Homo sapiens: one gene and its partner. The protein of the gene in region 1 purifies or fractionates together with the protein of each later gene. This does not show direct contact. Each region holds a gene or a part of one and is shown on either strand. Other genes may lie near its edges. The genes, in order: CYP4B1 and DFFA.

Region 1 (3,813 bases):
TTTGTGGGTGCAGCTGAGATACAGAAACTGAGTTATCCTGTCCTAAGGAAGGAGCTCACTCAGCCAAGAACTGCTGCCACCTGTCTCCTGAGGTCCTGGTAGCCTAGGGTGAGGGCATGGAGGGCAATACTGGGTCGCTTAGTGGCCCACCCTTGGAGGGTTCCAGGCTCAGGGATGGAGTCGTGTAGGATGTGCTTAGCCCCAGGCTGCCAGGGCCTGGACTGACCAGCCCTCTCTCTCCCATCCCTTCCCCAGGGAGAGGCCTGCTGGTTCTTGAGGGGCCCAAGTGGTTGCAGCACCGCAAGCTGCTCACACCTGGCTTTCATTATGATGTGCTGAAGCCCTATGTGGCCGTGTTCACTGAGTCTACACGTATCATGCTGGTGAGCTCCCTGTGCCAGAGTACTGGAGGCTGTTGCCTGCTGGGCTAGCCCCTCTCCACCCTGATTTTGTCCTGGGGAGAGTAGGTGGTGCTCTGCAGTAAGGAGAATAGCTGAGCCCCAAGGCCTGTTCTGCCTGCAACAGCAGTGCCAAAGCCCTGCTCTACTGACATGTGCCGCAGGCTGCCACTGAGTCGGTGCTGAATCTCTAAGTGTCCTGGCAGCCCGATCCTTGTCTCCACCAGGAGACCCAGCCCTCTTTCCTCCCAGGCCAAAGGGTCTCTGTGAGAACTTAATAAGGCTCCTAGCATAGCAGGTTTGAGGACTGCCTATATTTGAGAGTATGGGGAAAGGCTTTCACATCTAAAACGTGTCTCCTCATTTTCTGTCTACCACAGCTGCCCAGAATTATGTCAATACAACTCATCTCTAAGAGGGATGTCAGAGGTCAGGGTTAGAGTCTTAGGGCTGGGTAATCCCTAAGTTATCCAGGCTAGTCTTTCCCCTTGTAGGAAACTCCCCTCCAGGATTACTTACATATACACCATGCGGGGGAGCTCACCACCTCTCAGCCATCCTACTCCCTTATAGGCTGCCCTGACTGGGAGAAAACGTCTGTGTGCTGTGCAAGATCTGCCTCCTGGTCCTGCCCTCTGAGCCTGAAGCCCAGAGGCTTCCAAACTTCTACCCACCCTATCCTGATATTCCAGCAGGATGGAGGGCAGGACAGGGACTGGGAGTGTGTGAAGGGGGCTTGGTGGTGGAGGATAGGCTACGGGTCCTGGAGGGCAGCTTGGGGCATCCAGCCCAACTAACCCCTGCATCGCCTCCTACACATTGCCTCCTATCCCTGGACTCCAGGACAAGTGGGAAGAGAAAGCTCGGGAGGGTAAGTCCTTTGACATCTTCTGCGATGTGGGTCACATGGCGCTGAACACACTCATGAAGTGCACCTTTGGAAGAGGAGACACCGGCCTGGGCCACAGGTCAGGAGCCACCTCGGGGCTGACCGCACTGTCTCCAAAGCCATCTTAGAGGGGAGAGTTGGCAGGGGTCCTGGGCTCTGATCTGAGAAGAGATAGGGTCCTGCCCCAGGGAGCCTTAGCTTGCGGGGAGACAGGACCTGCTCATGGTGGGGTAAACACCTGGCTTTAGCAAGGAGGCTTAAGGGCAGGGAGAAGAAGAGCAGGATGCTCTGTGGTTGGGGCTAGATTCCTGGAATGGAGTTTCTCTGGCTCTGCTCCTGGGCCAGTGTCTAAGCCAATCCCTCCTCCTACCCTCTGCTTAGCAGGGACAGCAGCTACTACCTTGCAGTCAGCGATCTCACTCTGTTGATGCAGCAGCGCCTTGTGTCCTTCCAGTACCATAATGACTTCATCTACTGGCTCACCCCACATGGCCGCCGCTTCCTGCGGGCCTGCCAGGTGGCCCATGACCATACAGGTGGGCCTTTCCCACAAGGCTCACCTCTAGGAAGCCTGGGTTCCTCCTCCTGGCCCCTCTATGCCCCCTCCCATTATAGGACCCCAGTTCCCCTTTGGACAAAAGATGGCTTCCCAGGCAGTGACACTCTGTGCTTTTGGTTCAGACCAGGTCATCAGGGAGCGGAAGGCAGCCCTGCAGGATGAGAAGGTGCGGAAGAAGATCCAGAACCGGAGGCACCTGGACTTCCTGGACATTCTCCTGGGTGCCCGGGTGAGTACATTGTTGCCCACCCCTACCTGAGGACTGGTCCCAGAGAGGTCTTCAACCATCCTCCCAGGACAGCAGAAGGAGCTCTTAAGCATTTCCCCCTTTCCTCAGCAAATATAACCTGTTCCTCGTCCCATGAAACATATTAGCAGGGGTTCAGAGGTGGGCAGGTGTAGGGTGTGTGTGCCTGAGCTGTGGAGTTGGGAGCCTAGGTCACGTGGTAGTGGCTGGACGACATTTCTAGACTTCTAAGATCCCCCAAAATGTTGGCCTTGTAGAATCCTAGAATCTTAGACTTCATTCATTCATTCATTCATTCAGTAAGTTCTTTATTCATCAATTCTAGAAACTCACTGAGTTCTGACTCTGGGTCATTTCCGTGCTAGGATGCAGAGATGGGAAAGACCTGGCCCTTCCTTCCAGATGCTTACAGTCCAGCAGGGGAGACAGTAGGTAGATGTTGACCAAAATGTCTTCCTCTGGCAGGTGGTATTCTATGTGCCCAGTGAGCAGAACAGTCAGGGCTGGACAAGGTCACAAGTCATTTGGCCAGAGCATTTAGGGAGGGCTTTGTGGAGGAGGAGGCATCCAGGCTGAGCTTTGAAGGAATATAGGAATCTGGGGGAAGGTCCTAATCCACCCTCTGAAAAGGAGCTTTCACTCCCTCCCAGAGACCTTCATTTGACAACCACCATTATGAGTTCTTCTTGTTACCCACCTCCAATACCTCAAGCTGTCCTATTATGCCTTCCCTAACCCAGGATGAAGATGACATCAAACTGTCAGATGCAGACCTCCGGGCTGAAGTGGACACATTCATGTTTGAAGGCCATGACACCACCACCAGTGGTATCTCCTGGTTTCTCTACTGCATGGCCCTGTACCCTGAGCACCAGCATCGTTGTAGAGAGGAGGTCCGCGAGATCCTAGGGGACCAGGACTTCTTCCAGTGGTGAGTCTGAGGGTGGGCCCGGTTTATCCTGCTCAGCCCTTGGGAAGGGCGATGCCCATCCTGTCCTGAACCATCCTGGAAATCAGGTGAGGTGGCGGCTGCTATCCTGTTACCCCCAGTGTCATACCTTTTGTGGTGGTGGGGGGTGGGGAGAGTGGTTGGCTGGGCACAGATGCACCCCTGAGCCCATTCTCCCAAAATGGAGCCTTTCAGAAGTGTTATGTAGAGAAAGTTGTCAACAAGAGGCTGATATTTTGTGTGCTAACTTCTTCTGACGGTAGAACCTGATTACCCTTCTGGGTCCCTGGATAGAGTAGGGAGAGCTGGGAGAGAAAGAGGTGGAAATGTGGGGGTGAACAGAGCTGAGACAGCTGGGAGAGCCAGTTCCTTGCTACTTGCCTTTGGATGGCAATACTCAGCTTCCAGATGCCATATCTCTCCTGCTGGTGAAGGAGAAAAGACTTCCCCAAACTTCATCACTTAAAAACTTTCCATTGTTTTCCCCTGTTTCTTGGCTCAAGACTGAACTCCTAAACACTTAAGGATTGACCCTGACCTCTCTGCAGTGTGATCTCTGGGAGTCTCTCAAGAGGCTCCTTCACCCTTGCTGGCTGCCTGTTCCCCTCAGGCCTTTGCTTGTGGTCAGACAACCTGCCTTTCTCTCTGGGCTCCTGAGCAGCCTCCAAGAGGGGGCTAGGCACACAGCAGGGGTACAGAAAATGCTGAGCCAGAGGGGGAACTTTAGATCCACTTGAAAGGGACTGACCTATAACTCCAGGGTCTAGGACC
Region 2 (3,567 bases), about 36 Mb from region 1:
TTTTCCCTGCAAGGAGTGTACTGTAGATTACCAAACCTGCAGAAGCCGTCTGTGTGGAGACAGGAGGAGGACAAACCAGGCTTGCTCTGCTTCACACCCAGAGACCTGGAGCCACAGCATGTGGAAATTGCTTTCATGACCTTTTATACCCCCTGCTGATAAAGCAATTAGAAAACTGAAGAGTTTCACGGTGGTGAGATAGAATTTCACAATACTGAGTGAGATATTAGCAATGGACTCTCCGTATGTCCCTATGGTCTACAAGCTTAATATGTATCTTTAAACAAACACATAAAAAAATTCATTAACTGGAGAAACAAGATTGTGGCCATAGTCAACACTCTATAATGTCACCATCTTCACCACTATCTCTGCTTAAAATTCTGCCGTACTATCTTCAGAATAAGGATAATGAATTGGAAATACGACCATTTCTTTTCATTGCCCTTGATGGTTACCTTTTTAAAAAAAAAAAAAAAAAAGTAGGGTCTTACTCTATCATCCAGGCTGGAGTATGGTGGCATGATCAGCCTTGAGCTCCTGGGCTCAAGTGATACTCTCGCCTTAGCCTCCAGAGTAGCTAGGATTATAGGTCAGTGCCACCATGCCTGGCTAACTTAAATTTTTTTTTTGTAGAGACAGGGTCTTGCTATGTTGCCTAAGCTGACAATTACTTTATTTAAAAGCTTTTTTTTCTGGCCAGGGGTGGTGGCTCACACCTGTAATCCCAGCACTTTGGGAGGCTGAGGTGGGTGGATCACCTGAGGTCAGGAGTTTGAGACCAGCCTGGCCAATGTGACAAAACCCTGTCTCTACTAAAAATACAAAAATTAGCCGGGCATGGTGGCACGTGCCTGTAATCCCAGCTGCTCAGGAGGCTGAAACAGGAGAATCGCTTGAACCTGGGAGGTGGGGGTTGCAGTGAGCCGAGAATGTGCCACTGCACTCCAGACTAGGTGACAGAGTGAGACTCTGTCTCAAAAAAACAAAACAAAACTTTTTTTTTTTCTTGAGATACGGAGTCTAGCTCTGTCACCCAGGCTGGAGTGCAGTGGTGCGCTCTCAGCTCACTGCAACCTCTGCCTACCGAGTAGCTGGGATTACAGGCACCCGCCATCATGCCCAGCTAATTTTTGTATTTTTAGTAGAGACGGGGTTTCACCATATTGGCCAGGTTGGTCTTGAACTCCTGACCTCATGTGATCCGCCTGCATCGGCCTCCAAAGTGCTGGGATCAAAGGTGTGAGCCACTGTCGTGCCTGTCCTTTTTTTTTTTTTTTTTGAGACAGAGTGTCACTCTGTCACCCAGGCTGGAGTACAGTGGCATAATCTCGGCTCACTGCAACTTCTGCCTCCCCGGTTCAAGCAATTCTCCTGCCTCAGCCTCCCGAGTAGCTGGGACTACAGGCTCCTGCCACCACGCCCAGCTAGTTTTTTGTACTTTTAGTAAAAACACGTTTCACTGTGTTAGCCAGGATGGTCTCGATCTCCTGACCTCGTGATCCACCCGCCTCGGCCTCCCAAAGTGCTGGGATTACAAGCGTGAGCCAACACGCTCGGCCTGGCTTTTTTTTTTTTTAACATGTTCCATATGGGGCAGGGCTAAATGTTAGGCAGTGCGCCCATAGTCACTGCCAATTACTTTTTTTTTTTTTTTTTTTGAGACGGAGTCTCGCTCTGTTGCCCAGGCTGGAGTGCAGTGGCGCAATCTCAGCTCACTGCAAGCTCTGCCTCCCAGGTTCATGCCATTCTCCTGCCTCAGCCTCCCAAGTAGCTGGGATTACAGGCGCCCGCCACCATGGCTGGCTAATTTTTTTTGTATTTTTAGTAGAGACAGGGTTTCACCATGTTAGCCAGGATGGTCTCGATCTCCTGACTTCACGATCCGCCCCCCTCGGCCTCCCAGTGCTGGGATTACAGGCGTGAGCCACTGCGCCTGGCCAATCACTGCCAATTACTTTTGAACAGAGAACATCATATGTAATTAGAGGAGGCGGGATATTGTTGGTGCAGCTATATCATTCAAAATTGGCAGAAGTCCTGAAGCTGGTGGGGCTAAAAAAAAAATTGGTGGAACGGCGTATGTTGAGACCTGGAATAGCTTCTCTGGAAGGTGCTCTAAGGCAGGGGGTAGAGTAGTACATAGGTAGTCAAATGATGAGGCTGAGGGTGTCTACCAATAACACAACGCCACAGAGCTTCCTTGGCACACTTCCCGCTGCTGCTATGTGGGATCCTGTCTGGCTCGCTTAGGATTCTGCAGGTCACCAGGTGGTGAGGCCTTGCTTGCTGAGATGCTCCGGAGAGAATGCAAGCTCTGCGTCTGCTGCAGGCGCAGGGCGAGCTCCCGCTCACAGGCCTCCTGAACAGTCTCCGTCTTCTTTATGTCCCAGTTCAAGGCAACAGCCAGTGCTTTGGGGTCTTCCTTGGTAACCAACTGCAGCAAGAATAAAAACCCCTGAGAACTGGGCCTTCTGTGCGCCTCTCCTGCTGCTCTCCTGACTCTCTTTTGGGGAGTGCAATGAGGCAGTATCCGTTTATGTTACCTCTTTACACTGAAATGCCGGGTTTCCTTTACCATTAATTGCCACGGGCTTTTTGTTTTTTGAGACGGAGTCTCGCTCTGTCACCCAGGCTGGAGTGCAGTGACACTATCTCGGCTCCCTGCAAGCTCCGCCTCCCGGATTCACGCCATTCTCCTGCCTCAGCCCCCTGAGTAGCTGGGACTACAGGTGCCCACGACCACGCCTGGCTAATTTTTTTGTATTTTTTTTAGTAGAGACGGGGTTTCACCGTGTTCGCCAGGATGGTCTCGATCTCCTGACCTTGTGATCCGCCCACCTTGGCCTCCCAAAGTGCTGGGATTACAGGCGTGAGCCACCGCGCCCAGCCTGCCATGGGCTTTTTTAAGACGGAGTTTCACTCTTGTCGCCCAGGCTGGAGTGCAGTGGCGCGATCTTAGCTCACGCAACCTCCACCTCCTGGGTTCAAGTGATTCTCTTGCTTCAGCCTCCCACCACCATGCCAGGCTAATTTTTGTATTTTTAGTAGAGATGGGGTTTCGCCATGTTGGTCAGGCTGGTCTCGAACTCCTGACCTCAGGTGATCCACCTGCCTCGGCCTCCCAAAGTACTGGCATTAACAGGCGTAAGCCACTGTGCCCGGACAAGCATGGGCCTTTTCTTACAACACCAACAGGAAGAAGTCCTTGGAAAGTTTACTTGGAGCAACTCTAAGGTCCTCCACCTTCAGGAAATTTAGCCAAGCTCAAGTCAACAGTTTCCTTCCCTTCTATCTACAATAGGGAGGTACTTATGACAGGGACAAGGACAATGAATCAGAAGTAGCACCCACCCAGGCAGGTTCCCTTCCTCAAGTTTTTAGCTCCCTGGTCTTAGCCAGCAGGCGACGATCCCCTCAAGTTTGCCTTTTCCTGTGACATTGACAGACCTCAGGACGGACTATAGATCTTCTCTGACCATGGAAAGACCCAGAAGCCATCTCAGAAGATTGGGCCCTGCTATTCCTCCCTGTCAGGAACAGTCATTTCATTACCAACCTTGGACC

Evidence for each region.
Region 2: the proteins of CYP4B1 (region 1) and DFFA purify together in Homo sapiens (co-immunoprecipitation; one large-scale study listed by IntAct). This does not show direct contact.

Annotation. Positions count from the first base shown.
Region 1 is NC_000001.11:46,812,241-46,816,053, forward strand, and holds part of CYP4B1 (cytochrome P450 4B1), read left to right. Parts: intron 1-255; coding exon 256-383; intron 384-1,241; coding exon 1,242-1,366; intron 1,367-1,668; coding exon 1,669-1,823; intron 1,824-1,968; coding exon 1,969-2,075; intron 2,076-2,833; coding exon 2,834-3,024; intron 3,025-3,813. UniProt on the Homo sapiens protein: Cytochromes P450 are a group of heme-thiolate monooxygenases. In liver microsomes, this enzyme is involved in an NADPH-dependent electron transport pathway.
Region 2 is NC_000001.11:10,459,266-10,462,832, forward strand, and holds part of DFFA (DNA fragmentation factor subunit alpha), read right to left. Parts: exon of another isoform or gene 2,438-3,567; coding exon 2,225-2,437; 3' UTR 1-2,224. UniProt on the Homo sapiens protein: Inhibitor of the caspase-activated DNase (DFF40).